2 separate regions of the Homo sapiens genome follow, and region 1 is linked to region 2. The links come from fine-mapping of genetic effects on gene expression. A gene starts in region 2. The other region holds a variant in brackets. All regions are shown on one strand. Distances are between the middles of the regions.

The links.
Region 1: its variant is fine-mapped to the expression of MRGPRX2 in subcutaneous fat (FUSION, PIP 0.95).

The regions. Positions count from the first base shown.
Region 1 is chr11:18,935,665-18,951,187 of GRCh38, reverse strand. It overlaps MRGPRX1 (MAS related GPR family member X1), which reads left to right and starts at 11,774. Exons shown (of 2, transcript NM_001393578.1): 1 at 11,774-11,908. RefSeq lists an enhancer at 7,631-8,132. The variant G/TG (reference allele first, on the strand shown) is at 10,545.
Region 2 is chr11:19,051,086-19,066,608 of GRCh38, reverse strand. MRGPRX2 (MAS related GPR family member X2) reads left to right here and starts at 5,892. Exons shown (of 2, transcript NM_054030.4): 1 at 5,892-5,990; 2 at 10,182-12,154. The coding sequence starts at 10,207. The coding sequence ends at 11,199.

The sequences.
Region 1 (15,523 bases), 120 kb after region 2:
TTCATATATGAGTTTTACTCCTTGTGCCACCTCATGTATTTGGTCATGGCGGCAAGATTCCTCTTAAATAGAATCACAAGGCTGGAGTGCTCTAAATAATGAGCATTATCTTTTGTGGCCTTGAAGTGATAGGGCTTGCTGTTAGTTTTGTGACATTCGTAGGAGTGAGCTCTATAATAATGTAAGCCCAGAGAGGACCAGGCATGTCAGGCCAACAGGACAAACCAAAATCAATGCCCTGCTCTCCTTACCCTCCTCACAGTGATATATCCAGACCTCCAGGGCCAGAAGGCATGGATTAAAAAACAAAAAAAATGTGTGGGGGTTAGGGGAGAAGAGAGAAGCAATGGAATGCAGGCCCTTCTCTGGAGCAGCATTTTTACCTGCAAAAGGCCCACATTGGGAGTAAGGGAGACAGTTAATCTGTGAATTAAATCAACATTGTAATTGTCACATAAAAATTCAGACCTAAATTCTGCATAGCTTGATATGGGTAATCAAAAATTCCTATTCAAATTCTGTGTCACCTAGCACCTCTTTGTAACATAATATCTATAGTGTCTTGACATTTGGTTTAATACTGCTGTTTTAACATCTTGGTACACATGTGAGAGAATAATACATATCAACCGCAGACGTTCTGAAATTGAAGAAAATTGTCATTTCCATTCCAGGTATGCAGGCACCCTTGCCTTATTATCAAAGACATGTACGATTATTGCTGAGAGTACAGATGCATGAATCAGCCTTAAGTTGTATCTGTAACAGTGTATGTATTCATTTTAAGAGTTATTGGAAACAAATATGATAACAATTTAATATGTGCTTAATTTTGTGGAAGATGTCTGTTAATGCTTACTACATTATCTTCTAGCGTATGTGCCTGGTTTACAAACTTCCTTCCAGCATAACCCATGTCCTCATTTTTGGTGACTTCAATATCCATGGAGATAAGTCCATACAATGAACTGGCCTTTCAGTTGGTTTTTAAGTTTTTACTGTGAATTAATTGTAGACTACGAAGAAGTTGTGAAAGCAGTACAGAGAGTTCCTGTATGCCCATCACCCGACCTACAGCAATACTTACAAGTTAAATAAATGTATTGTCAAAACCAGGAAATCGACATTGATCCCATCTAATTATCTACACTGTAAATCTTATCAGATTTCACCAAATAACTACAGCACAATCTTACCAAATTTTACCAGTGTTTGCATGCACTCATTTTTGGAGTGAGATATTCCTCTATGTTTCATTCCATAATATTTTGTCACAGGTGTAGATTCATAAACACAATCACATTGAATATAGAAGTGTTTCTTTACCACAGAAGAATTCCCTTGGGCTTCTCCTACTGTCACACACACAGTGTGCTTCTTCCCAAATCCCTCTAATCACTGATCTATTCTTCATGTCTGTAATTTCATCATTTTGAAAGGGTTACATAAATGGAATCATACAGTATCTAATCTTTTGACTTTGGCTTTTTTTATTCAGCATAATGTCCTCAAAATCCACCCAACATTTTCCAGCTATCAATAGCTTATTGCTGACTTTCTTATACTACCGAGTAGTGTTCAATTGTATAGATGTACTATGCTTTGTTTCACTATTCACAAGTGGAAAGACATTGCTGTTTTTTCTAACGTGGCATTTATAAATAAAGCAGCTATACACGTATGTGTACAGACTTTTTTATTTTATTTTAAGTTCTGGGATACATGTGCATAATCTGCAGGTTTCTAACATAGGTATACATCTGCCATGGTGGTTTGCTGCACCTATCAACCCATCATCTAGGTTTTAAGCCCTGCATGCATTAGGTATATGTCATAATGATCTCCCTCCCCTTGATCCCCACCACCCAACAGGATGTGTTCTGTAATGTTCCCCTCCCTGTGTTCAACAGTTCTCATTTTTCAACTCCCAATTATGAGTGAGAACGTGCGTTGTTTGGTTTTCTGTTCCTGTGTTAATTTGCTGAAAATAATGGCCTCCAGCTTCATCCGTGTCCCTGCTAAGGACGTGAACTCATTCTTTCTTATGACTGCATAGTATTCCATAGTGTATATGTGCTACATTTTCTTCATCCAGTCTATCATTGATGGGCATTTGGGTTGGTTCCAAGTCTTTGCTATTGTAAATAGTGCTGCAATAAACATACATGTGCATGTGTCTTTATACTAGAATGATTTATAATCCTGTGGATATATATCCAGTAATGGGATTGCTGGGCCAAATGGTATTTCTGGTTCTACCTCCTTGAGAAATCTTCTCACTGTCTTGCACAATGGTTGAACTAATTTACACTCCTACCTACAGTATAAAAGCTTTCCTGTTTCTCCACAGCCTCATCAGCATCTGTTCTTTCCTAACTTTTTTTTTTTTTTTTTTTGGCGAATTTTTTGTACTTTTAGTAGAGACAGGGTTTCACCATGTTAGCCAGGATGGTCTCGATCTCCTGACCTCATGATCCGCCCACCTCGGCCTCCCAAAGTGCTAGGATTATAGGCATGAGCCACCACGCCCGGCCTCCTAACTTTTTAATAATTACCATTCTGACTGTTGTGAGATGGTATCTCATTGTGGTTTTTATTTGCATTTCTCTAATGACCAGTGATGATGAGCTTTTTTTCATATGTTTGTTGGCCACATAAGTGTCTTCTTTTAAGAGGTGTCTGTTCACATTCTTTGCCCACTTTTTGATGGGCAAAGAGGAACTTTGTCCTCTTTTAAATTTATTTAACTCCCTTTAAGATACTGGATATTAGGCCTTTGTGAGATGGTGAGATTGCAAAAATTTTCTACCATTCTGTAGGTTGCCTGTTCCCTCTGATGATAGTTTCTTTTGCTGTGCAGAAGCTCTTTAGGTTACTTAGATCACATTTGTCAATTTTGGCTTTTTTTGCAATTGCTCTTGGTGTTTTCATCATGAAGTCATTGCCTATGCCTATGTCCTGAATGCGATTGCCTGGATTTTCTTCTGGGGTTTTTTTATGGTTTTGGGTTTTACATTTAAGTGTTTAATCCATCTTGAGTTTATTTTTGTACACAATGTAAGGAAGGGGTCCAATTTTTGTTTTCTGCCCATGGCTAGCCAGTTATCCCAGCACCACTTATTAAATAGGGAATCCTTTCACCATTGCTTATTTTTGTCAGGTTTGTTGAAGATCAGATGGTTGTAGATGTGTGGTGTTATTTCTGAGGTCTCTGTTCTGTTTCACTGGTCTATGTATCTGTTTTGGTAGCAGTACCATGCTGTTTTGGTTACTGTATCCTTGTAGTATAGTTTGAAGTCAAGTAGCGTGATGCCTCCAGCTTTGTTCCTTTTCCTTAGGATTGTCTTGGTAATATGGGCTCTTTTTGGTTTTAAATGAAATGTAAAGTAGTTTTTTCTAATTCTGTGTAGAAAGTCAAGGGTAGCTTGATGGGAATAGCACTGAAACTATAAATTACTTTGGGTAGTATGGCCATTTTCATGATACTGATTCTTCATATCCATGAGAATGGAATTTTTTTCCATTTGTTTGTATCCTCTTTTATTTCCTTGAATAGTGGTTTGCAATTTTCCTTGAAGAGGTCATTCACATCCCTTGTATGCTGTATTCCTAGGTCTTTTATTCTCTTTGCAACAATTGTGAGAGGGAGTTCACTCATGATTTGGCGCTTTGCTTTTCTATTATCGGTGTATAGGAATGCTTGTAATTTTTGTACATTGATTTTGTATCCTGAGATTTTGCTGAATTTCCTTATCAGCTCAAGGAGTTCTGGGGCTGAGATGATGGAGTTTTCCAAATATACAATCATGTCATCTGCAAAGAGAGACAGTTTGACTTCCTGTCTTCCTATTTGAATACCCTTCATTTATCTCTCTTACCTGATTTCCCTGGCCAGAACTTTCAATACTGTGTTGAATAGGAGTGGTGAGAGGGCATTTCTGTCTTGTTTCCAGTTTTTAAAGGAAGTGTTTCCAGTTTTTGCCCAGTCAGTATCATATTGGCTATGGGTTTATCATAATTAACTCTCATTATTTTGAGATATGTTCCATCAATACCTAGTTGATTGAGAGTTTTTAACATGAAGGGATGTTGAATTTTATCAAAGGCTTTTTCTGCATCTATTGAGATAATCACATGGTGTTTGTTATTGGTTCTGTTTATGTGATGGATTACACTTATTGATTTGCATATGTTGAACCAGCCTTGCATCCCAGGGATGAAGCTGACTTGATCGTGGTGGATAAGCTTTTTGATGTGCTGCTGGATTCGGTTTGCCATTATTTTATTGAGGATTTTTACATCGATGTTCCTCAGGGTTATTGGCCTGAAATTTTCTTTTTTTGTTGTGTCTCTGCCAGGTTTTGGTATCAGGATGAAGCTGGCCTCATGAGTTAGGGAGGAGATCTTTTTTTTCTGTTGTTTGGAATCCTTTCAGAAGGAGTGGTAACAGCTCCTCTTTGTGCCTCTGGTAGAATTTGTCTGTCAATCCATCTGGTCTTGAACTTTTTTTCATTGATAGGCTATTAATTATTGCTTCAATTTCAGAACTTGTTATTGGTCTATTCAGGGATTTGGCTTCTTCCTGGTTTCATCGGAGGAGGGTGTATGTGTCCAGGAATTTATCCATTTCTTCTAGATTTTCTAGTTGATTTGCTTAGAGATGTTTATAGTATTCTCTGATGGTAGTTGTATTTCTGTGGGATCAGTGGTGATATCCCCTCTATCATTGTTTATTGTGTCTATTTGATTCTTCTCTCTTCTTCTTTACTAGTCTAGCTAGTGGTCTATCTATCTTGTTAATGTTTTGAAAAAGCCAGCTTCTGGATTCATTGATTTTTTTGAAGGGTTTTTCGTGTTTCTAGCTCCTTCAGTTCTGCTCTGATCTTAGTTATTTCTTGTCTTCTGCTAGCTTTTGAAGTTGCTTGCTCTTGCTTCTCTAGTTTTTTAAATTGTGATGTTAGGGTGTTGATTTCAAGCCTTTTCAGCTTTCTGATATGGGCATTTGGTATATAAATTTCTCTCTTAACACTGCTTTAGCTGTGTCCCATAGATTCTGGTACATTGTCTCTTTGTTCTCATTGATTTCAAAGAACGTCTTTATTTCTGCCTTAATTTTGTTATTTACCCAGTAGTCATTCAGGAGCAGGTTGTTCAATTTCCATGTAGTTGTGTGGTTTTGAGTGAGTTTCTTAATCCTGAGTTCTAATTTGATTGTACTGCAGTCAGAGAGATTGTTTGTTATTGTTTCCAATCTTTTGTATTTGCTGAGGAGTATTTTACTTCCAGTTATGTGGTCGATTTTTAGAATAAGTGCTATGTGGCACTGAGAAGACTGTATATTCTGTTGATTTGGGGTGGAGAGTTCTGTCGATGTCTATTAGGTTCACTTGGTCCAGAGCTGAGTTCAAGTCCTGAATATCCTTGTTTTCTGTCTCTTTGATCTAATATTGACAGTGGGGTGTAAAAGTCTCCTGCTATTATTATGTGGGAGTCTAAGTCTCTTTGTAGGTCTGTAAGAACTTGTTTTATGAATGTGGGTGCTCCTGTATTGGGTGCATATATATTTAGGATAGTTAGTTCTTCTTGTTGCCTTGATCCCTTTACCATTATGTAATGCCCTCCTTTGTCTTTTTTGATCTTCATTAGTTAAAGACTGTTTTATCAGAGACTAAGATTGCAACCGCTGCTTTTTTTTGCTTTCCATTTGCTTGGCAAATATTTTTCCATCCCTTTATCTTGAGCCTATGTGTGTCTTTGCACGTGAGATGAGTCTCCTGAATATAGCACACCTATGGGTCTTCACTGTTTATCCAATTTGCCTGATGCTAGCTGGGTATTTTGCACATTAGTTAATGCAGTTTCTTCATAGTGTCATTGGTCTTTATATTTTAGCGTGTTTTTGCAGTGGCTGGTACCAGTTTTTCCTTTCTATATTTAGTGCTTCCTTCAGGAGCTCCTGTAAGGCAGGCCTGGTGATGACAAAATCCCTTACAATTTGCCTGTCGGGAAAGGATTTTTTTTCTTCTTTCCTTATGGAGCTTAGATTGGCTGGATATGAAACTCACGGTTGAAAATTCTTTTCTTTAAGAATGTTGAATATTGGCCCCCACTCTCTTCTGCCTTGTGGAGTTCCTGCAAAGAGATCCGCTGTTATTCTGATGGGCTTCCCTTTTAGGTAGCCTGACCTTTCTCTCTTGCTGCCTTTAACATTTTTTCCTTTATTTCAACTTTGGAGAATCTAACAATTATGTGTCTTGGGGTTGCTCTTCCCGAGGAATATCTTAGTGTTGTTCTCTCTGTTTCCTAAATTTGAATGCTGGCCTGTCTTGCTAGGATGGTGAAGTTCTCCTGGATAATATCCTGAAGTGTATTTTTGAACTTGGTTCCATTCTCCCCATCACCTTCAGTTGCACCAATCAATTGTAGGTTTGTCTATTCACATAGTCCCATATTTCTTGGAGGTTTTGTTCATTCATTTTCATTCTTTTTTCTCTAATCTAGTCTTCATGCCTTATTTCAGTAAGTTGATCTCCAACCTCTGATATTCTTTCTTCTGCTTGATTGATTCAGCTATTGATACTTGTGTATACTTCACAAAGTCCTTGTGCTGTGTTTTTCAGCTCCATCAGGTCACTTATGTTCCTCTCTGTACTGGTTATTCTAGTTAGCAGTTCCTGTAACCTTTTATCAAGGTTCTTAGCTTTCTTGCATTGGGTTAGAATATGCTCCTTTAGCTCAGAGGAGTTTGTTATTACCCACCTTTTGAAGCCTACTTCTGTCAATTCATCAGTCTCATTCTCCATGCAGTTTTGCGCTGTTGCTTGAGAGGAGTTGCGATAGTTTGGAGGAGAAGAGGCTTTCTGGTTTTTGGAATTTTCAGTATTTTTGCACTGCTTTCCTCATATTTCTGGATTTATCTACATTTGATCTTTTAGGCCGATAACCTTTGGGTGGGGTTTTTGTGTGGGGGTCTTTTTAGTTGATGTTGATGTTATTGCTTTCTGTTTGCTAGTTGGTCTTCTAACAGTCAGGCCTCTCTTCTGCAGGTCGGCTGCAGTTTGCTGGAGGTCCAATCCAGACCCTGTTCACCTGGGTATCACCAGTGGAGGCTGCAGAACAGCAAAAGATGGCTGCCTGATCCTTTCTCTGGAAGCTTCATTCCAGAGGGGCACTGGCCTGATGCCAACTAGAGCTCTCCTGTATGAGGTGTCTGTCCACCCCTGTTAGGAGGTCTCTCCCAGTTGGGAGGCACGGGGGTCAGGGACCCACTTGAGGAGGCAATCTGTCCCTTAGCAGAGCTGGTGCACTGTGCTGGGAGAACCCCCCTTGTCAGGATCAGCTGCTATCTTCAGAGGCAGCAGGCAGGAAAGATTAAATCTGCTGCGGTTGCGCCCACAGCCTCCCCTTCCCCCACGTGCTCCATCCCAGGGAGATAGGAATTTTATCTGTAAACCCCTGACTGCGCCTGCTGTCTGTCCTTCAGAGATGTCCTGCCCAGTGAGGAGGAATCTAGAGAAGTAGTCTGGCCATAGCTGCTTAGCCGCGCTGTGGTGAATTCCGCCCAGTCCAAACCTCCCAGCCTTCTTAGCACTGTCAGGGGAAAACCGCCTACTAAAGCCTCAGGAATGGCGGATACCCCTCTCTCCACAAAGCTCAATCGCCCCAGGTCGACTTCAGACTGCTGCGCCGGCAGTGAGAATTTCAAGCCAGTGGTTCTTTGCTTGCTGGGCTCTGTGGGAGTGGGACCCATTGAGGCAGGGGACCACTTGTCTCCCTGGCTTCAGCCCCCTTTCCAGGGGAGTGAACGGATCTGTCTCACTGGAGTTCCAGGCACCACTGGGGTATGAAAAAAACTCCTGCATCTAGGTCGGTCTCTGCCCAAACAGCTGCCCAATATTGTGCTTGAAACCCAGAGCCCTGGTGGTGTAGGCACACGAGGGAATCTCCTGATCTGCGGATCGCAAAAACCATTTCAAAAGCGTAGTACTGGGCTGGTAGCAGGGTTCCTCACAGCTTCCCTTGATTGGGGGACAGGTGTCCCCTGGCTCCTTGTACTTCGCAGATGAAGCGATGCCCCACCCTGCTTCTCCTTGCTCTCCGTGGGTTGTACACACTGCCTAACCAGTCTCAATGAGATGAACTGGGTACCTGAGTTGGAAATGCAGAAATCACCAGTCTTCTGCGTTGGTCCCGCTGGGAGCTGCAGACCAGAACTGTTTTTATTTGGCCATCTTGGCCCCCCTCCTGTACAGATTTTTAAGTGAACACAGTTTCCCAGTTTCTAGGATACATTTTCCAGGTTCTAGGATACGCTGGATTGCTGGATTATATGAAAATGCAAGAAGATTTCCCAGAGTAGCTCTACTATTTTACTTTCTCATTGGCAGTGTATGAGACCTCCAATTCCTTCAAATCTCAGCCAATATTTGAAACTATCAGTATTTTATATTTTAGCCATATTGAGAGGGTAGAGTGGTATCTCGTGACTTTTATTTGTTGTCCTAAACATTAGTGATGTTGAGCATCTTTTTATGTGTTTATTTGTCATGCATATATGTCCTTGCTGAAGTATCAGTTCGTCTTTTACCCTGCTTGAATCCAGCTCTCCACTAACTCCATGCCTGTTCCCATAGAACAGAGTGTGGCTGCAGCACAACACACAACCATGCCCAGCGGTTTCACTGTACATTTATAACCTTGAACCTGAAAGGTCCATTTATATCTCCTGAACACTCACGTAACATTTCCATAATTGCCTCTCACTCTCCAAAGGAAAATCTTCACGACATTTTCTCTCTCCTGAAACCGCCTACTCTTTATTTATTTTTTTAATCACTGTCAGGTGATGCTCTTCTGAGAATTACTCAATCTCCCCAGAGGGAACCTACCTCCCCATGTGCCTCTGAGCACACCTCTCTGCATTTTCTCTCATGCCAGGAAATGGGCTCTGCAAATTCCTGTTTGAAACCACCCTTTCCATTTGTGCAGTTTCCCCTTTTGCCTCCCCAGAAACATTTTATAGCATTATTGCCTCTCCCTTCTACATCTTCAATGTTTCCTTCTCTAATGGATCCTTCCATTGCAACTGAAACACCCCATCCTATTTGTGGCATAAAACACCATCTAAGCAACCATTCGTCTCTATCCACAGCCTGATTTATCTTCTTTATTTTAGAAAAAAATATCTTCCAAAGAGATTTCTGTACTCATTATCTTCATTTCCTCACCCTTCCTTGTATCTTCTCATATCTCTAACTCCCTCTCTTAGCTAGATCATTAAATTTATGTTTTTTGTTTGAAAATTTATTTGTGACATGGTAATAAAGTCAAAGCTTTCAAAAATAATCTTTAAATACACTCACTGAAAACTGTCATTCCCATTTTAGGTCCTCAGGCATCCTTGCCTTGTTAACAAAGACATATCCTATTATACTTACTAATAAGTGTATATTAATTCACAAATATTTAATAATAAAACAATATATATATTTTTCATACAATATATACATTGGTCTGCATTCTTTTTAAAAAATCTAACAAATTCTGCAGGGCCTTTTATATCAGGTTTGTTGCTCTTTCTGGGTAGCTACAGAGTATTCTATTGCATAGATAGACAGTAATTTATACAGTATTGATGGCCATTTTGGCTGTTACCAGTTTTTGACTGTAAATAACACTGCATTTATTAACTCAGAACATAGATCTTTTGAACATGCACAAATATATCTCTAAGATAAATTCTTAGATGAGGAATTACAGAGAGAAAAGGATGGTGCTTTATACATGCTTCCATATGTTGAAAACAGCCTTCACTGGAAGTTGTATCCATCTGCATCCCCAGCAGAAATGAGTGAGGGTACCTGATCCCACTCCATCCCCACACTGTATGCTATAAAACTTAATGGTTTTTTAGATTTTGGTAAATAAAATATAACTCTGTAATTTCAATTGGCATGTCTTTCATTATGAGTTGAATTTCTCCTCTTTCCATATGTTTAGGAGCCATTTTTATTTTTTAGAAATTGTGAATCATGACTTAAAGTTATTTTCTTATTACCTTTTTCAATTTTGAATTATTAACATCATTTAGAAAAATTTGTATCAATAGAGAAAATTTATACTTTGGCTATAACATACATTACCAAACATCTCCCAGTTTATTTATTTAATTTTATTAATTTACTAATTTATTTCTTGAGATGGAGTCTCGTTCTGTCACCCAAGCTGGAGTGCAGAGGCACAGTCTTGGCTCACTGCAAATTTCGTCTACTAGGTTCAATCCATTCTCTTGCTCAGCCTCTCGAGCAGCTGGGATTACAAGCGTGTCCCACCACAACGAATTAATTTTTGTATTTTTAGTAGAGACCAGGTTTCACCATGGTGGCCAGGCTGGTCTCATACTCCTGACCTCAGGTGATCTGCCTGCCTTGGCCTCCCAAAGTGCTGGGATTACAGGGGTGAACCACCATGCCTGGCCACAGTTTATTTATATCTTGATTATGATGGTTAATGTTATGCTAAAAAAAATAACTTTTTTTTTTTTT[G/TG]AGACAAAGTCTGGCTCTATCAGCCAGGGGAGTGCAATGGTGTGATGTCAGCTCACTGTAACCTCCACGGCCTGGGCTCAAGCCATCCTGCCACCACAACGTCCCAGGTAGCTGGGACTACAGACATGCACCACCACACCAGGCTAGTTTTTGTATTTTTTGTAGAAACGGGTTTTCACTATGTTGCCCAGAATGGTCTCAAACTTGTAAGCTCAAGCAATCCACCCACGCAGCCTCCCAAAGTGCTGGGATTACAGGAATGGGCCATCACAGCTAGCCTTTTTGTCTTTATAAATATTTTCTTTAATATCTTCTGAATTGTATCCTATAATTGAAAGTCTTTTTCCACTTTGATTTAAAAACTATTTGGCTATGGCTTCTCCAGGTAATTGTATTTTCATTATAAAATTTTAAGTAGTGTATTTGCATGTATCCTCAAATCATATGTAAAGTATGTTTCCACCTTTACTTATTTCACACAGAAACTCAGTTGTCCCAATCCCATTCATTCAATTGTGCCTGTTTTACACACTACTTTGATATACAACCTTTATCATAATAGGCATACATTGAAGATATTAGAAGTCCACTTCCACTACTGCAATAAAGCAAATATTACAATAAAGTGAATCACATGAATTTTTGGTGTCCCGGTACATGTAAAATTTATGCTTACACTATACTGTACTCTATTGAGTCTCAATGGCATTATGTCTAAAGCAATGTGCATGCATTACTTAAAAAAATACTTTTTCACTAAGAAATGGTAACCAGCATCAGAAACTTTATCAAGCCAAACGTTTTGCTGCTGGAGGGTCTTGCTTGATATTGATGGCTGCTGAAGTGGCTGCTGAAGGTAAGACAGGCTGTGCCAATATCTTAAAACAAGACAACAGTGAAGTCTGCCACATCAACTGACTCATCCTTTTATGAAAGATTTTAATGTAGCATGCAATGCTATTTGCATAGCATTTTATACACAATAGAACTTCTTTTAAAATGGGAGTCCATTCTCTCAAACTGCGCCACTGTTTTTATCAAGCAAGTTGAACAAGATGGAATGTGATGGGAGAGGCTTATCTCTATTGGATATGGGACAGAGGCCAAGAATCATCTCAGGTAGGGTTTGTGTCTCCAATACCTCTGGCCACTGATTTGTCCATAGTCCTCATACAGGAAATAACAAGTCTGTCCAGCATCTTCATAAGCCTGGATTGCTCACCAGCTTTGACTCCAGCTCCTGTATGCATCTCCTGAATTAAGCAACACAGAAGGGTTCTCTGAAGTCACTGAATCCCAGAAAGGCCCTCCACCTTTAGCACAAGGGACGTCTTCACCACTGGACAAAGGAGAAAAAGATAAGGGTAAGTACCAAGATTTGTCTTCTTCCATAGTCAGTCATGGTTTTTGCTATAAGATCGTTTCTGTTTCCACCTAGGTGCTACAGGCAGGGGATCATGAGCTTGTTTCAGGAAAAGACAGGGGACATGAAGTTTCCTTCTGGAAACTGAGTGCTGCCAACCCAGACTGTGTGAGTTTCAACTGGAGTCCCCCCATTTGATTTATCTGTCCATATCACCTCCCTTATTCCAATCACTGAACCTGTCCTCTTAGAGAAAATGCTGCCTCTCACATTCATTTAAGGAGCTAGAGGACATGCAAGCATTGCTTCACAGAGTTGAACTGCTGTAGAAGCAGGTTTTGTTGTTTTACTTACTTTTCTAAATTATTATTCCTTGCCTGTCTGGAAAGGTTCAAGGAAGAAATAGGTGGTCCAAACTGAAATGACTGAGGAGTGTTTCGTGAGGGAAGTATTTACAAAGATGTGCAAGGTTAAGGGAAAGAGACAATGCATGGGTCAGCACCCTAAGCAACAATACATAGGGGAGGACTAAGTCCTCCCCTAGGCTGAAAGGGAGAAGGAAGGAGCAGTTACCATTGTCGCCATAGCCATAGCTGTAGCCATAGGGGTGGTAGAGCTCCAGCAGGCAGGTGGAGAAGCCTTGCACGGCCAACACACAGCCACACAGGCTGATATGCTTTGGATCTGTGTCCCCAACCAAATCTCAGGTTGATTGTAATTCCCAGTGTTGGAGGGAGGGCCTGGTGGGAGGTGATTAAATAGTGGGGATGGTTTCTCATAAATGGCTTAACACTATCCCCCTTCGGTATTGCCTTAGTGATAGTGAGTTCTCATGCAATCTAGTTGTTTAAAAGTGTGTAGCACCTCTTCCCTGTCTCTCTTGCTCCTGCTCTCACCATGTGAGATGACTTGCTCCCCCTTTGCCTTTCACCATGATTGGAAGCTTCCTGAGGCCTTCTTAGAAGCAGAAGCTGCTATGCTTCTTGCATAGCCCGCAGAGCCATAAGCCAATTAAACCTGTTTTCTTCATAAATTTCCCAGTCTCAGGTATTTCTTTGTAGCAATTCAAGAATGAACTAATACACAGGCAGAGAGCCAGGAGGTGGAAATCCCAAGTGGCTCTCCTGCTGTCTTCCAGTCTCATCCAGGTGTCTCCCAGTGTCTCAATTCCACCAGAAACTGGAATTAAAAAGAATCCCACTGATGTGGTGCATAGAAGCCACTCTCTTGGGGTGTCAAACAGGATAGAGAAGAATGGAAAGCAAATCATCATAGCAAATGAGACTATCCCTCTCTCCTTCTTATATCCTCCTAATTCCTGGGACAGTCTCTGTCTACAGGTGATTGATTCCTGTCTCATTTCAGCTCTTTCAGACTACTTTAATGTTCGGCATGTCTTTCTCTACTGTCACTTCTATGCAGAAATGTTTGCATTCATCCAAAATGCATAGAAAATAAAATGTAATTTTAAAAAGAGAACATATTTCTTTTGTTTAGAATACAAGTTTGACCCCTCTCATAAAGACACAAAGTAGAAATATCTTAAATAAGAAAGTACAGTGGTGCCTCTGGGTCACTAGGTCCTGAATCTGCAGATTCAACAACCCACAGGTGGAAACTGTTCCAAAAATAAGGGTATGGCGGAGGTGTGCATGTACTGAACAGGTACAAACTTGTTTTTCCTTGTCATTACTTCTGAAATAACACAGTAAAACAAGAACTTACATGGCATTTGCATTTTGTCAGTTATTCTAAGTAACTTAGAAGTGATTTAATGTATCTGGGAGAAAGTGCATAGGTTTTGTACAACTATCACATCATTTTATATAAGGAAATTGAGCATCTGCAGATTTTGGTGTGTGCTGGGGTAGCAGCACACACATCTGCCATATGCGAAAGCCCCTGTGAATATCCAGAAATGACACTCTTTGAGATCAGTGCGGGAAGCTCCAAGGCATCGTACATCAGAATTCCAAAAACTGCTACTCTCGAGTCCCTAGAGAGTTGCCCTCATACCTGTGATCCTATATGGTTCCCAGCCACACCAGCATTTCAGCATGATGGAAAAAAAATAAGGAAAGGAGATGCGTTGCTCCTGCTATTGGTCCTGTGAGCCAGGACTTGCTTACATCACTTTTGTGCATCTTTCACTGAACAGCACCTGGTCATAAAATGGCACCCAGCATCAAGGAAAACTGGAATGTAGGTCCTTGTGCCGCTTTTAAACTCTCAGAATTTTTATGTGACCAAACAGGAAAATGAACACTGGGGCAACCTAGCAGTCTCTTCTGCCTCTGTCTCTGATTCTGTACTCACATCAAGATTTTTCAGGAACTCCTCTGAAATAATGAATCATGCGGCAGAGAACCATACAGAAGTCTCATGCAGGGCTCCAGGGACCAGGGGCTGGCATTGGGCCTGCTCTTCGTGTTGTGAACTCATGAAAACACTTTAATTCTCTAGGCCTCGGCTTCATCTTATGTTATATTAAGATAATACCATAGATGATCTTTAAAGAACACATGCTAAATGTTGGTGATACCACAGTGGAAAAGACAGGCATGACTAGCCGTTATGAAGCTTCAGGTTTCATGAGGAAGACAAACACACCATTACCCTAAATATAGAGGGACAATGTGTTTAGTGCCCTGCCTGTGGATAACAGAGGTTCTCCTTTTCCTCCCATTTCCTTTTTGGGCCAAGCAAGGCTGTGGCAGCTTGTCTCTCTAAGAGAGCTCATGATGGATGCACTCACTCCTGATGCTCCTCTGTAATCCCAGAGGAGGGTGAGTCTTCTTTCCACCTGGAGGCCTCCTGTCCCTGTGCATTCTCGGGATTCCAGAGCAAAGGTGGCCTCTGATAGGCAAAAAGGAACTCCTGAATTTGTTACTAAATGGCTTTCACTCTTCTCTATTTTGTTCCCTATTTGACCTGCTTCTCTTTCTCTATCTGAAGTTGGTTTAGGTTAGTTTTTTTTTTTTTCAACCCACAATTTTGCCGCCAACTTGGATTTAATCTTGAGAATCCCTCCTCTCCTTTACCCGCTCTAACATGTATAATCGACACAGAGTCGTGCTGGGTGTAAAGGGCTGCTCAAAGACTGGATCATGAGTCAGCCCTGCTGGGCTCAAATTCATACTATATAAGTCCCAGAATGAATAATTCACTCTTTTTGTGTTCCAATGCATTATCTGACATATGGGAATAATACTCATTCTTAACTCCTAGGCTCTTCAGATAATTAAAACAGACAATACCTAATAAACTCTCCATCAGCTGCTCTTATTCTCCCAGATTAGACCCAGTCCTCATTCTCCAGTTGAAATCTACATGAATATCTCTCTTTATACTCCAAGCCCTACATATCTCCTATTTCGCCTCATGGACTCCTCACATACAAATGTTTGCATCAACAAAGAAACGAACCAAAGATCTCCTGAAAGAAAGAATGAAATAGGTTTATATTGTGTATACTCAGCAGAATACTCAGTAGTGCCCCACAGATATTCCCACACTTTAATTACCTGCTGCAGTGGCACTCAGGCTCACCCTCACTTACTCTTTCCTCTGTTCTATTGCTGAGCAATTCAGCTCAGACCCACACCCTACCCAAAAC
Region 2 (15,523 bases):
CAAAAACAAAAACAGGGGTTGCAATCCTAGTCTCTGATAAAACAGACTTTAAACCAACAAAGATCAAAAGAGACAAAGAAGGCCATTATGTAATGCTAAAGGGATCAATTCAATAAGAAGAGCTAACTATCCTAAATATATATGCACCCAATACAGGAGCACACAGATTCATAAAGCAAGTCCTTAGAGACCTACAAAGAGACTTAGACTCCCACACAATAATAGTGGGAGAGCTTAACACCCCACTGTCAATAATAGACAGATCAATGAGACAGAAAATTAACAAGGATATTCAGGACTTGAGCTCAGCTCTGGACCAAGCAGACCTAATAGAAATCTACAGAACTCTCCACCCCACGTCAACAGAATATACATTCTTCTCAGCACCACATTGCGCTTATTCTAAAATTGACCACATAATTAAAAGTAAAACACTCTTCAGCAAAAGCAAAAGAATGGAAATAATAACAGTCTCTCAGACCACAGTGCAATCAAATTAGAACTCATGATTAAAAAACTCACTCAAAACCACACAACTACATGGAAACTGAACAACTTGCTTTTTAATGACTACTGGGTAAATAAAGAAATTAAGGCAGAAATAAATGAGTTCTTTGAAACCAATAAGAACAAAGACACAACATACCAGAATCTCTGGGACACAGCTAAAGCAGTGTTTAGAGGGAAATTTATAGCGCTAAATGCCCACAGAAGAAAGCAGGAAAGATCTAAAATTGACACTCTAACATCACAATGAAAAGAACTAGAAAAGCAAGAGCAAACAAATTGAAAAGCTAGCAGAAGGCAAGAAATAACTAAGATCAGAGCAAAACTGAAGGAGATAGGGAAATGAAAAACCCTTCAAAAAATCAATAAATCCAGCAGCTGGTTTTTGGAAAAGATTAACAAAATACATAGACTGCTAGCAAGACTAATAAAGAAGAAAAAAGAGAAGAATCAAATAGACACAATAAAAAATGATAAAAGGGATATCACCACTGAGCCCACAGAAATACAAACTACCATCAGATAATTCTATAAATGCCTCTATGCAAATAAACCAGAAAATCTAGAAGAAATGCATAAATTCCTGGACACATACACTCTCCCAAGACTAAACCAGGAAGAAGTCGAATCCCTGAATAAACCAATAACAACTTCTGAAACTGAGGCAGTAATTAATAGCCTACCAATCAAAAAAAGCCCAGGACCAGACGGATTCACAGCCAAATTCTACCAGAGGTACAAAGAGGAGCTAATACCATTCCTCCTGAAACTATTCCAAATGATAGAAAAGGAGGGACTCCTCCCTAACTCATTTTATGAGGCCAGCCTCATCCTGATACCAAAACCTGGCAGAGACAAAACAAAAAAAGAAAATTTCAGGCCAATATCCCTGATGAACATTGATGCAAAAATCCTCAATAAAGTACTGTCAAACCGAATCCAGCAGCACATCCAAAAGTTTATCCACCATGATCAAGTCGGCTTCATCCCTGGGATGCAAGTCTGGCTCAAAATACGCAAATCAATAAATGTAATCCATCACATAAGCAGAACCAATGACAAAAACCACATGATTATCTCAATAGATGCAGAAAAGGCTGTCGATAAAATTCAACACCCCTTCATGCTAAAAACTCTCAATAAACTGGGTACTGATGGAACATATCTCAAAATAATAAGAGCTATTTTTTATAAACCCACAGCAAATATCACACTGAATTGGCAAAAGCTGGAAGAATTCCCTTTGAAAATTGCCACAAGACAAGGATGCCCTCTCTCACCACTCCTATTCAACATAGTATTGGAAGTTCTGCACAGAGAAATCAGACAAGAAAAAGAAATAAAGGGTATTCAATTAGGAAAAGAGGACGTCAAATTGTCCCTGTTTGCAGATGACATGATTGTATATTTAGAAAACTCCATTGTCTCAGTCCCAAATCTCCTTAAGCTGATAAGCAACTTCAGCAAAGTCTCAGGATACAAAATCAATGTGCAAAAATCACAAGCATTCCCATACACCAATAATAGACAAACAGAGAGCCAAATCATGAGTGAACTCTCATTTACAATTGCTACAAAGAGAATAAAATACCTAGGAATACAATTTACAAAGGATGTGAAGGACCTCTTCAAGGAGAACTACAAACCACTGCTCAAGGAAATAAGAGAGGATACAAACAAATGGAAAAAAATTCCATGCTCATGGATAGGAAGAATCAATGTCGTGAAAATGGCCATACTGCCCAAAGTAATTTATAGTTTTAATGCTATCCACGTCAGGCTACCATTGACTTTCTTCACAGAAGTAGAAAAAACTACTTTAAATTTCATATGGAAACAAAAGAGATCCTGTATAGCCAGGACAATCCTAAGCAAAAAGAATAAAGCTGGAGGCAACACACTACCTGACTTCAAACTATACTACAAGGCTACAGTAACCAAAACAACATGGTGCTGGTACTAAAACATATATATCGACCAGTGGAACAGAACAGAGGCCTCAGAAATGATGCCACACATGTACAACCATCTGATCTTTGACAAACCTGACAAAAACAAGCAATGGGGAAAGGATTCCTTATTTAATAAATGGTGTTGGGAAAACTGGTTAGCCATATGCAGAAAACTGAAACTGGACCCCTTCCTTACACCTTATACAAAAATTAACTCAAAATGGATTAAAGACTTAAACATAAGACCTAAAACCATAAAACCCTAGAAGAAAACCTAGACAGTACCATTCAGGACATAGGCATGGGCAAAGACCTCATGAATAAAACACCAAAAGCAATGGCAACAAAAGCCAAAATTGACAAATGGGATCTAATTAAACTAAAGAGCTTCTGCACAGCAAAAGAAACTATCATCAGAGTGAACAGGCAACCTACAGAATGAGAGAAAATTTTTGCAATCTATCCATCTGACAAAGGGCTAATATCCAGAATTTACAAGAAACTTAAACAAATTTGTAAGAAAAAATAAACAACTCCATCAAAAAGTGGGTGAAGAATATGAACAGAGACTTCTCAAAAGAAGATATTTATATGGCCAACCAACATGAAAAAATGCTCATCATCACTGGTCATTAGAGGAATGCAAATTAAAACCACAATGAGATACCATCTTACACCAGTTAGAATGGAAATCATTAAAAAGTCAGGAAACAACAGATGCTGGAGAGGATGTGGAGAAATAGGAACGCTTTTACACGGTTGGTGGGAGTGCAAATTAGTTCAACCATTGTGGAAGACAGTGTGGCGATTCCTCAAGGATCTAGAACCAGAAATACCATTTGTCTCAGCAATCCCACTACTGGGTATATACCCAAGAGATTATAAATCATTCTACTATAAAGACACATGCACACATACGTTTATTGCAGCACTATTAACAATAGCAAAGACCTGGAACCAACCCAAATGCCCATCAATGATAGACTGGATAAAGAAAATGTGGTACATATACACCATGGAATTCTATGCAGCCGTAAGAAAAGGATGAGTTTATGTTCTTTGCAGGGACGTGGATGAAGCTGGAAACCATCATTCTCAGCAAACTAACACAGGAACAGAAAACCAAACACTGCATGTTCTCACTCATATGTGGGAGTTGAACAATGAGAACACATGGATACAGGGAGGGGAACATCACACACTGGGGCCTCTCAGGGGGTGGGGAGCTAGGAGAGGGATAGCACTAGGAGAAATACCTAATGTAGATGACGGGTTGATGGATGCAGCAAACCACCACGGCATGTGTATACGTAGGTAACAAACCTGCACGTTCTGCCCATGTATCGCATAACTTAAAGTATAATTTTAAAAAAATAAAATAGAACTTCTAGAAATTAGTAATATAAAAATTGGATTTAAACTTCAGTGGATAGATTAAACAGATGATTAGACACAATGGAAAGAATCTAGTTAACTGGAAGATACATCTGAAGAAATTACCCAGAAAGCAGCCTCAGAGACAGAGACGAGACATAAGGAAAAGGTTAAAGAAATAAGGATGATAGAAGAAGAGGGCTAACATATGTTGAATTAGACTTCCAGAAAGAGATAATACTAAAAGTGATAATGAGAGCTAATAATTTTATAGTACTTACTATGTGCTCCTATTGTAAATCATTTATATACATTAAATTATTAATCTTCACAGCAAACCTATAGATTAATAATGTTATCCCCATTTTACTGATGAGGAAACAAACATAACAGAGTTACAAAATCTGGCTAAGGTCCCATAGGAGAAATGCCAAGTAGCCTGGTCTTGTGTTCTTCACCGTTATGTTAATATTTAAAGAGATTATAGCATTAAATTGTTTAAAAATGTTAAATGATGATAATTTTAAAATCTAGGAAACTCCACAAATCCCAAACATGATTTGAAAAAGAGTCACCAGATACAATTTGGTGAGAATGTATCATAGCAGAGAAAAATAAAAGCTCTTAGAGGAAAAAAAGGCAGATCACCACAAGCAAATGGCAACCTGACTGATGGCCGCAACAGTAACCCTGGCAGTCAGAACATGGATCTTCAATGTGCTGGAAGAAAGAAACTATCACCCTACAATGCCATGCCTGGAAAAACCATCTTTAGAAGACGAGGGTGAAACAATGACATTTTCAGATAGATAAAAGGAGGCATTTACCATGCAGAGACTCTCACAGAAGGAACTCCTGAAGAATGTGTTTTGAGAAATGGAAGATATGAGATGTAAAATGGGAGGATGAGCAAAAGCATTGGTGATTATGTGGATAAATCTGAATAAACACTGACTATTTAAAACAATAATAAGTGTTTCATTTGTTGGAGGGAAACAGAATCAAAATCAAATAATAGAGCACAGTAGGTTAGACAGTAACAGAAGTTAAAGCTTTCTAAGGTCCTGCTGCTGCTCATGAGGAAAGCAGATTTCTGGGGACAAATGCATGGTTTACCCACTGCACCAAAGTATAATACAAGAAAATGCTGAGTCTCAGAACTCGCCTCAATCAACACATGTTCCCTGTCTGAGGTCACCCAGCTGCTCTGGAATGCAAAGGGGCATGATCTTGTATGGTGTTCATCATTGTGTCTTCATTGCCTGGAACGGTACCTGACATATCATAGGCAAACAATAAACAGTGTTGAATGAATGAATAAATGAGTGAATAATTTCTTCTGATTGTCTTAAATGCTTCATAATTGTTACTTATAACTCAATTTGGCTGCAGCATAGGCACATGAAAGGAAGTCATAGGAGATAAGGCTGAAAATATTGGTTGGCTCTAGATGATCTAAAAATAATCTAGCTAATAAATATCATGATGTAGAGGGAGAAACGTGACAGATGGTGCATGTGATGTGCTAAGTCCCCTATATTTTATAAGGAGACTCAATATATCTAGTTGTTAACATCGATAAATCAAAAATAGAAATGTTGTTTTATTACGCAAAGCTTTTTTAAAAAAAAGAATGGAAACTGTATGCAGTGGTTGCTTTTGGGGAATGAGACTTCGAGAGACTTTGCATTTCATTTTATACACCTTAGTGTCATTTGAAATAAACCTGATTTTGAAAGGTCAAGTAAGCCAGGGCCTTGAATGCCAAGCAGAAGAGGGCAGACTATTCTTTAGCTATGAAAGCTCACGTCGCTTGATTGGTCTGCTTCCTGGATGCTCATTGTGGGCAATGAAAGACTTCAGGACGGTGATTCCTTGCAGGGAGTGGGGCCGGAGAGGGTAGGGGAGAAACCAAGATAAGTGATTGGAGTCAGGGCAAATGCTGAGAAACATCTCATGTGGTTTCCTGTGTCATACTCTTATTTTCCAGCACCCTCTGTACAGGAAATCACAGGGTTGTTGAGCATCTTGATAAGCTTCACTCAGTCATCAGGTTTCACTCCAGATCCTGCAGGCATCTCCCCATCCTCAGCTGTTTGCCAGTCCCAGGAAAGCACTTCTCAACTCACCAACTCCAGTAGAAAGAAGGGTGTTAAGGTAAGAGTTTGTTCAAGAACCATCTTCTTTCAAAGGCAGTTTTGGTTTTTACCTTAGTCCACATCCTGATGAATTCATTAGGAAAAGAAGACAGGAAGCTCCTTTGAGGAAGCTTTGGATGCTGGCAGCTTAGATGCTGGGAGATCCGAATGGGGTCAAGCAGGTTCGTCCCACTTCTCTTCTATCTACCAATATTCTCCCCTTCTCTTCGACCATTCAAATCTGAAACTATGGAGAGAAAGATTTTGCTGATTTTAATTTAGGGGCAGGCTAGAATGAAGTCATTACTTCCCTAAGCTAAATTGTTATTTAAAACCTCAGGTTGCACTGATTTTCTTGTTATTCAAAAGGTTTTTCCTTCATATCTGTCATTGTCCCAGCAGAAAACACACATCACACACTCTAAAGGGGTAGTTTAGAGGAGTTTAGTGAAGAGACTGTTTACAACGGCGTGAACAGGGATTAAGGAATGATGAAGCCCTCAAAGGCAAGTGATAGTGGAGGGCTGTTACCGTTGCTAGGTCTGAAGTGATAAGGAGAAAGAGAAGTTCTGAGAACTCAGAATGTGCTGTAGCGGTAACTGTAACTGTAACTATAGCTGTGGCTACAGGAAAGGGCCACCAGGCAGGGCTATGTCCTTAGGTAGAAAAACACTGCCACTGCCAACTCACAGCCCTTCAGGGCGCAGGGAGAGAGCCAGGAAATTTTTAAAAAATCATCCCCCAATCTACTGTCAATGTGTCCCTTTGGCTGAAAAAAAAAGTCACCCTCCAATCTCCTGTCAATGTGTACCCTTTGGAGCCTGAGTGAAAGACAGCCCATTGACGAGGCACAGACATGTCTCCTCCCAGGATGCAAAGGCAGGTAGAGAAGGATGGACATGAGATCCTAATAGCAAATAGGAAAGTCCATTTCTTCCCATAGCCTCTTCTCAGTTTGTCTTTCCTGAGACTTTCTCTATTAATGTGATTGAATCAATTTCTCATTCTATCACCTCCCTTTTTTTTAATTGTTTGACCTTCCCATCTAGTGTCACTTCTTTGGACTAGTCTCTCACTATCATCATAAATGCCTTGAGAATGGAATGTGGTTGGGAAAAAAAGGGATTGGGAGTACATAGGTACTCCCAGCTATAAGTACACAGGTATGTGTAATGTAAGTTTATGATTTTGGCTTCTCTAAAAAGAAACCTATTATAGTGATAATCAAAAAGAATGTTTACTAGACTTGGGCTGATAACTCTAAGACATCAAACATCAAGGCTCCTTCCAATTTCTATTTCCCCATCCCTAAAGCGGTACCCTTACCCTCATGGTCCTACATGGCTCCCAAACACATCAGCATTCCAGCCAGAGAGAAGAGAAAAAAAGAAAGAGTACAGGAGTAGCTGGTTATATCACTTTCTCTCACCTCCCCTTGACCATCACATATGGTTACATGGTGCCATTAGCATAAAGGGAAGCTGAGAAATGGGCCTTTTTCTGATCTAAGACTCAGAATTATTATGTGTGAGAAAAGGAGAATGGCTTTTGGGGCAACAAGCAGTCTCTATAGCCCGATTCTCTTTTAGCATCTGTGCTCACCTGGAGATTTTTCTCAACACTGCCTCACAAATAGTGAATGATGTAGACATGGAACAGAAATAAACCTAGGACAGGGCCCCAGGAGACTGGAGCTGGTATTGGACCTGCTTTTCACCATGTGATTCAGGAAACTCTTTTGTACACGTTAAGCCTGTCTTTCTTTGTTAAATGAGCGTATTACAATAGATGGCCTCCAAGGGATATGTGTTGGAGGCTGGGGATATAATAGTGAACAACCACAACAAAAATGTTGAGCTTAATGAGGGAAGTAAAAGAAAAAACAGACATACACTTAAAAATACAGGTGCAGGGCCGGGCACGGTGGCTCACGCCTGTAATCCTGGCACTTTGGGAGGCCGAGGCGGGCAGATCACAAGGTCAGAAGTTCGAGACCATCCTGGCTAACACAGTGAAACCCCGTCTCTACTGAAAAAAAAAATACAAAAAATTAGCCAGTCGTGGTGGTGGGCACCTGTAGTCCCAGCTACTCGGGAGGCTGAGGCAGGAGAATGGCGTGAGCCCAGGAGGCGGAGCTTGCAGTGAGCCGAGATCGAGCCACTGCACTCCAGCCTGGGTGACAGAGCGAGACTCCATCTCAAAAAAAAAAAAAAATACAGGTGCAAACTGTGTTCAGTGCCACGAATAAAAAGGCCAACCTGCCCTGAGGGAGGACAACAGAAGTGGTTTTCTTCCATATCCTCACAAGGCCAACCAGGGCTACAGGAACTAAGACAGCATGTGATGGATGCATTCAGTCCTTGATGCCAATTCTGCACCCCCATGGAGGACACATTCACTTTCCCCTTGGAGGCCTCCAACCCATGAGAGTTTTCTGCAGTGTGGAGTGATTGACGGCTGTTTTTCTGAAGCAAGAAAGAGCTCTTGCATTCAGTTGCTTATTCTCAGTTGGCTTCTATTCATATCTCTTCTCCTTATTTGATTAATCTCTCTTCCTTACTGTTTCTTAAAGTTGCTTAATCTAGGCTTAAAAAACTGCAATTTCGACATTCCATTTTGGATTTGATATGAGCATTACTTGTTGCTTTTCTCCTTTCTTCATGTGTAGTTGGTATTGAACCCTTGCAATGGGGCTGCAAGGCTGGTTAAGAACAAGCCCTCTGACACAGACCTGTGGGTTCAAATGCAGGCTCTACCACTTGTTTGTGAGACCTGAAGCATATTACTCAATACATTTGTGCTTTAATCTCCTTCTCTGTAAAATGGGACTAATAATAGTACTGACCTCACCAGGCTCTGAAGAAGATTTAAAGAGGCTATACCTGAAGAGCATTCAGCCAGCTGCTATTATTCACCCCATTATGAGTAAGGGCTCCTTCCCAAGTGTAATTTGCATAAGCATCTGCCTTTTCCCCTCAAAGCCCTGCACAGTGTAGACATGGTTCTTTTTTCTAATTTCCCACTCCTTTCCCCAAATAATCCTGTTCACAAATGCTTTAATTTGCAAAGAAAGCTCAAAATCATCTGGGGGAAGTAATGGGTCCACCTTAGATGTATTCATACCACAACACCCTCTAGTTACCTCTAGACACTAGACACTCTCAATTGCTGCCTCTCTCTCCTTTTCCCAAATTGCCCCCTTTTCCTCCAAGATGCAGAGAAATTCAGATAAACCCTGAATCCTCTCCATAAACTGGAAGTTTAAACTCTTTTGGGTGCTGAGCAAAAGCCATATACTAGCCCTTCCTGGATTGAAGATATGACAGTGGCCATTATTCACTATCTGTGTAGGCAGAAGCAATCCCTTCAAATACACCAGAGCTTTCCCAGAAGGAAACATGAAGAATGATGTTTTCTTCATTTCTTTACATGTGTGTTTTTTAGTGACTAATTTCATTTTAAAATGTTGGTGTTCCACTTAGCCCAAATTTTCAACTACTCTTGGCTCCCCATGCATGCATGCATGCATTCATTCATTCATTTATATGTGGTACAAACTTCTTGACCCTCCACTATGCCCTCACATTGAGCTAGGCACTGAGGACACAGAAATGGATAAGAGAAAAACTCTTTCTGTTTTCATAAAGCTGACCCACTGAGCAATTTCTAGTCTGACAGGCCTGGCTGTCCTCAGACCTGTCCTAGCAAGAAGTCACCTCTCCGTTATGACCCTAAATCACAATCTCCATTCTGACTGTTGATGGACTCCTCTCAGTCATTAAGGGTGGCCATGGGTCATGGCCTGGGTCATTTCTTCTGGCCCCTGAGAGGAAATCTGTATGCCAGGATAAAAAGAATCCTGAACTCAGAGTACTGTCTCTTGCTGCCCCACATATTCTGCCTAGACTTTTCTCTTCCTGCCTCCAGGAGACATGACACAGTGACAGTGAGTGGGGGTGTTTGGGCCTTAGAATATTCCCATACCAGCAGAGGATCTACCTTGTAATAGAAAGAGCCCAGGATTTAGAGTCAGCAAGAAATGAGTTTGAATCCAGGTGCTAGGACTCCCTGGCCCTTAATAAATGACTTAATCTCTTCAAGCCTCTGATTTCCTCTCCTGTAAAACAGGGGCGGTAATTACCACATAACAGGCTGGTCATGAAAATCAGTGAACATGCAGCAGGTGCTCAAGTCTTGTTTTTGTTTCCAGGGGCACCAGTGGAGGTTTTCTGAGCATGGATCCAACCACCCCGGCCTGGGGAACAGAAAGTACAACAGTGAATGGAAATGACCAAGCCCTTCTTCTGCTTTGTGGCAAGGAGACCCTGATCCCGGTCTTCCTGATCCTTTTCATTGCCCTGGTCGGGCTGGTAGGAAACGGGTTTGTGCTCTGGCTCCTGGGCTTCCGCATGCGCAGGAACGCCTTCTCTGTCTACGTCCTCAGCCTGGCCGGGGCCGACTTCCTCTTCCTCTGCTTCCAGATTATAAATTGCCTGGTGTACCTCAGTAACTTCTTCTGTTCCATCTCCATCAATTTCCCTAGCTTCTTCACCACTGTGATGACCTGTGCCTACCTTGCAGGCCTGAGCATGCTGAGCACCGTCAGCACCGAGCGCTGCCTGTCCGTCCTGTGGCCCATCTGGTATCGCTGCCGCCGCCCCAGACACCTGTCAGCGGTCGTGTGTGTCCTGCTCTGGGCCCTGTCCCTACTGCTGAGCATCTTGGAAGGGAAGTTCTGTGGCTTCTTATTTAGTGATGGTGACTCTGGTTGGTGTCAGACATTTGATTTCATCACTGCAGCGTGGCTGATTTTTTTATTCATGGTTCTCTGTGGGTCCAGTCTGGCCCTGCTGGTCAGGATCCTCTGTGGCTCCAGGGGTCTGCCACTGACCAGGCTGTACCTGACCATCCTGCTCACAGTGCTGGTGTTCCTCCTCTGCGGCCTGCCCTTTGGCATTCAGTGGTTCCTAATATTATGGATCTGGAAGGATTCTGATGTCTTATTTTGTCATATTCATCCAGTTTCAGTTGTCCTGTCATCTCTTAACAGCAGTGCCAACCCCATCATTTACTTCTTCGTGGGCTCTTTTAGGAAGCAGTGGCGGCTGCAGCAGCCGATCCTCAAGCTGGCTCTCCAGAGGGCTCTGCAGGACATTGCTGAGGTGGATCACAGTGAAGGATGCTTCCGTCAGGGCACCCCGGAGATGTCGAGAAGCAGTCTGGTGTAGAGATGGACAGCCTCTACTTCCATCAGATATATGTGGCTTTGAGAGGCAACTTTGCCCCTGTCTGTCTGATTTGCTGAACTTTCTCAGTCCTGATTTTAAAACAGTTAAGAGAGTCCTTGTGAGGATTAAGTGAGACAGTGCCTATGAAACAAACACTAAGTGCAGTGTCTCTGGAACTGCCTTACTCACAGGCTTCCACCACAGCCCTATGAGAGCTTTGCCAACTCTGCGGTCCATGACTGTTCCCACTTTTAATGAATCCTACCTTTCGCAGAAGGCTGAAAGCAGGGCAGAAAAGATCTACATTTCTTTGGACACTGCACTTGATAGGGACTCAAAGAATGTTATATTTTTAATTAATTTCTTTTTCTCTTCCGTACAATTTCTGTCTCAACAAAATTAGAAGAATTAAATTTAAAACTAGCTCCAAAAGAGCAGTCGTCTTTCATTTTGGCAGACCTTAGAATATCCCCCTAGCTTAATAAATCTTTGTTGAATGGCTTAATGAATGAATAAACTGGTTAATGTTTAAGTTAAACCTCTGAAAAGTCTCCATTTACCAGATTTGAGTCACTAAATTTATTGCTTTCACTACTTTTGAATTTTGCAAACATGAAATTAAGTTTTATAATTAGATAAATCAATGTCAACACATATTTAAAGTTTGAGGTACACTGTCTTCCTGTGGTTTCCTTTCACATGCCATCCCTTAAAATCCCAGCTACACGCCTTCCCATTCCTTCCCCTTTGCCTTTGTTCTAATCTTCCCTCTCTGGGGGCTCTCTAATTCGTCCTGGAAGTTTCCAGTGGTCTTATAGACTCCATGTTCTTGGAGGACAGGCTGTATGTCAGATTTACCTTTTATTCCGAAGAACTCGGAGCATTTATTTTGTTAATTAAATTGCACATATTTTTAAAAGTTACGTGTTCCACAGAATAAAATACTAATTGTAAATGCTGCATCTTTTAATAATTTTTTATTATTTTTAATTAAGGTATAATTAAGAGAATGATATGCACAGATCATAAATGTACAGCTTAATGAGTTTTGTTAAATGAATACACCTATGTGACTCAAACTTCATTCAAGACAAAATATTTTCATCATCTCTAAAAGTTCCCCTGTGCTTCCTCATTCTTCCTGCCCCCAGAGGCAACCATTGTTTCTATTTCAATCAACAAATATTAGCTTTGCCTGACCTTTAACTGTATCTTTTTAGAATCATAATATGTGTATTTTTTGTTTCTAGCTCTTGCACTCAACATAATATTTTGAAGATTTACCTATGTTATTGCATCACATGTATCAGTAGTTTGTTCCTTTCATAAAGCTGAGTACTATTTAATTGTGTGAGTGTACTATGGTGTAACTATTTTCATACTGACAGATATATATGTGATGTGTTATGAATTTTTTGGCTATTATAAATAAAGCTGCTGTGAACGTTCTTATTCAAGTCTTTTTGTAGATATATGTTTACATTTCTTTGTATAGACAACCTGGAATGAAATTGCAGGATCAAGGAAAGATGTATACTTAATTCTATAAGAAAGTACCAAGCTATTTTCTAAAATGTTTGTACCATTTCACATTCCCACCAGCAATGTATGAGAGTTCCAGTTGCTCCACATGTTCCCAACAAACATGGTATTGCCAGTCTTTGAATTTTAGTCATTGTAATGAGTGTTAAATAGTATCTCATTGTGTTTTAATTTGCATTTCCATAATGACTTATTAAATTGAGCATCTTTTAAGTGCTTTTTAGCTACTCTTTTTTTTGGCAGTGTCTGCTTAAGTTTTGCCTATTTTTATTAAGTATTTATCTTTTTCATTATTAATTTGTATACATTTTTTCATATGCTGAACGATTCTTTTGGTAGTTATGTGTATTATACTTATCTGGTTGGTGGTTTGCCTATTCATTTTTACATATTTATTTATTTTTAACAATTACATATATTTATGGGGCACGATGTGATGTTTTGATCAATGTATACCTTGTAGAAAGACTAAATCAAGCTGATTAAAATATCCATCACCTTACCAACTTATTTGTGTGTGTAATGTGAATGTTAAAAATCTATTCTTTAAACCAACACCACATGTTCTCACTTATAAGTGGGAACTGAACAATGAGAACACATGAATACAGGGAGGGGAAGAACACACACTGGGGCCTGTCGGGGGGTGGGGTGAGGGGAGGGAGAGCATTAGGAAAACTAAGTAATGCATGCTCGGCTTAATGCCTAGATGATGGGTTGAGAGGTACAGCAAACCACCATGGCACATATTTACCTGTGTAACAAACCTGCACATCCTGCACATGTACCCCATAACTTAAAATAAAAATAAATTTTAACATCTATTTTTTTTTAGATATAGTCTCACTCTGTCACCCCAGCTGGAATGCAGTGGCACAATCTTGGCTCACTGCAACTTCTGCCTCCTGGGTTCCAGCGATTCTCATGACTCAGCCTCCCAAGTAGCTGGGGCGGGGATTACAGGCGTGCACCACCACGCCTGGCTAATTTTTTAAAAATTTTTAGTAGAGATGGGGTTTCACCTCGTTGACTCTGCTGGTCTTGAACTCCTGGCCTCAAGTACTCCACCTGCCTGAGCCTCCCAAAATGCTGGGATTACAGGCATAAGCCACTGCACATGAACGAATCTCTTCTTCTTCTTTTTTTTTTTTAAACTTTTATTTTAGGTTCAGGGGGTACAGGTTTGGGGGGTACATATTTGTTACATAGGTAAATTCATGTCATGGGGGTTTATTGTACAGATTATTTGAACACCAAGGTATTAAGCTCAGTACCCAATAGCTATCTTTTCTGCTCCTCTCCCTCCTTCCACCCAATGCCCTCGAGTAGATCCTAGTGTCTGTTGATCCCTTTTTCGTGTTGTGAGTTCTCATCATTTAGCTCCCACTTATAAGTGAGAACGTGTGGTATTCGGTTTTCTGTTCCTGCATTAGTTTGCTAAGGATAATAGTCTCCAGCTCCATCCATGTTCCCACAAAAGACATGATCTCATTCTTTTTTATGGTTAAATAGTATTCCATGGTTCATATGTTCCGCATTTTTTTAACTTTTATCTTAGGTTTGGGGGTACATGTGAAGATTTGTTATATAGGTAAACACGTGTCATGGGGATTTGCTGTATAGATCATTTCATCACCCAGGTATTAAGCCCGGTACCCAGTAGTTATCTTTTCTGCTCCCCTCTCTCCTCCCACTCCCCATCAAGTAGACTGTGGTATCTCTTGTTTCCTTCTTTGTGTTCATAAGTTCTCATTATTTAGCTTTCACTTGTAACTGAGAACATGTGGTATTTGTTATCTCTTCCCATGTTCATTTGCTAAGGATGATAGCCTCCAGCTTAATTCACGTTCCCACAAAAGACATGACCTCATTATTTTTTATGGCTGCATAGTATTCCATGGTGTATATGTACCACATTTTCTTTATCCAATGTCATTGATGGGCATGTAGGTTGATTCTATGTCTTTGCTGTTGTGAACAGTGCTGCAATGAACATTTATGTGCATGTGTCTTTATGGTAGAATGCTTTATATTCCTCTGGGTATATACCCAGTAATGGGACTGCTCAGCTGAATGGTAGTTCTGCTTTTAGCTGAGTATTCACCATACTGCTTTCCACAATGGTTGAACTAATTTACACTCCCACCAAGAGTGTACAAGTATTTCCTCTTCTCTGCATCCTCGCTAGTATCTGTTCTTTTTTGACTTTTTAATAGTAACCATTCGGACAGGTGTGAGATTGTATCTCATTATGGTTTTGATTTGAATTTCCTTAATGATCAGTGATATTGAGCTTTTTTCATATGCTAGTTGGCAGCATATATGTCTTCTTTTGAGAAGTGTCTGTAAATGTCCTTTGCCCACTTTTTAATGAGGTTGTTTTTCTCTTGTAAACTTGTCTAAGTTTTTTACAGAAGCTGGATATTAGACCTTTGTCAGATACATAATTTGCAAATATTGTCTCCCATTTTGTAGGTTGTCTGTTTACTCTGTTAGTAGTTTCTTTTGCTGTGCAAAAGCTTAATTAGATTCCATTTGTAAATTTTTGCTTTTGTTGCAATTGCTTTTGGTGTCTTCGTCATGAAATCTTTGCCCTTCCTAGGTCCAGGACAGTATTGCCTAGGCTGTCTTCCAGAGTTTTTATAGTTTTGTGTTTTACACTTAAGTCTTTAATTCATCTTGAGTTGACTTTTGTATGTGGTGTAAGAACAGGGTCCAGCTTCAATCTTCTGCATATGGCTAGTCAGTAATCCCAGCACCATTTATTGAATAGGAAGTCTTT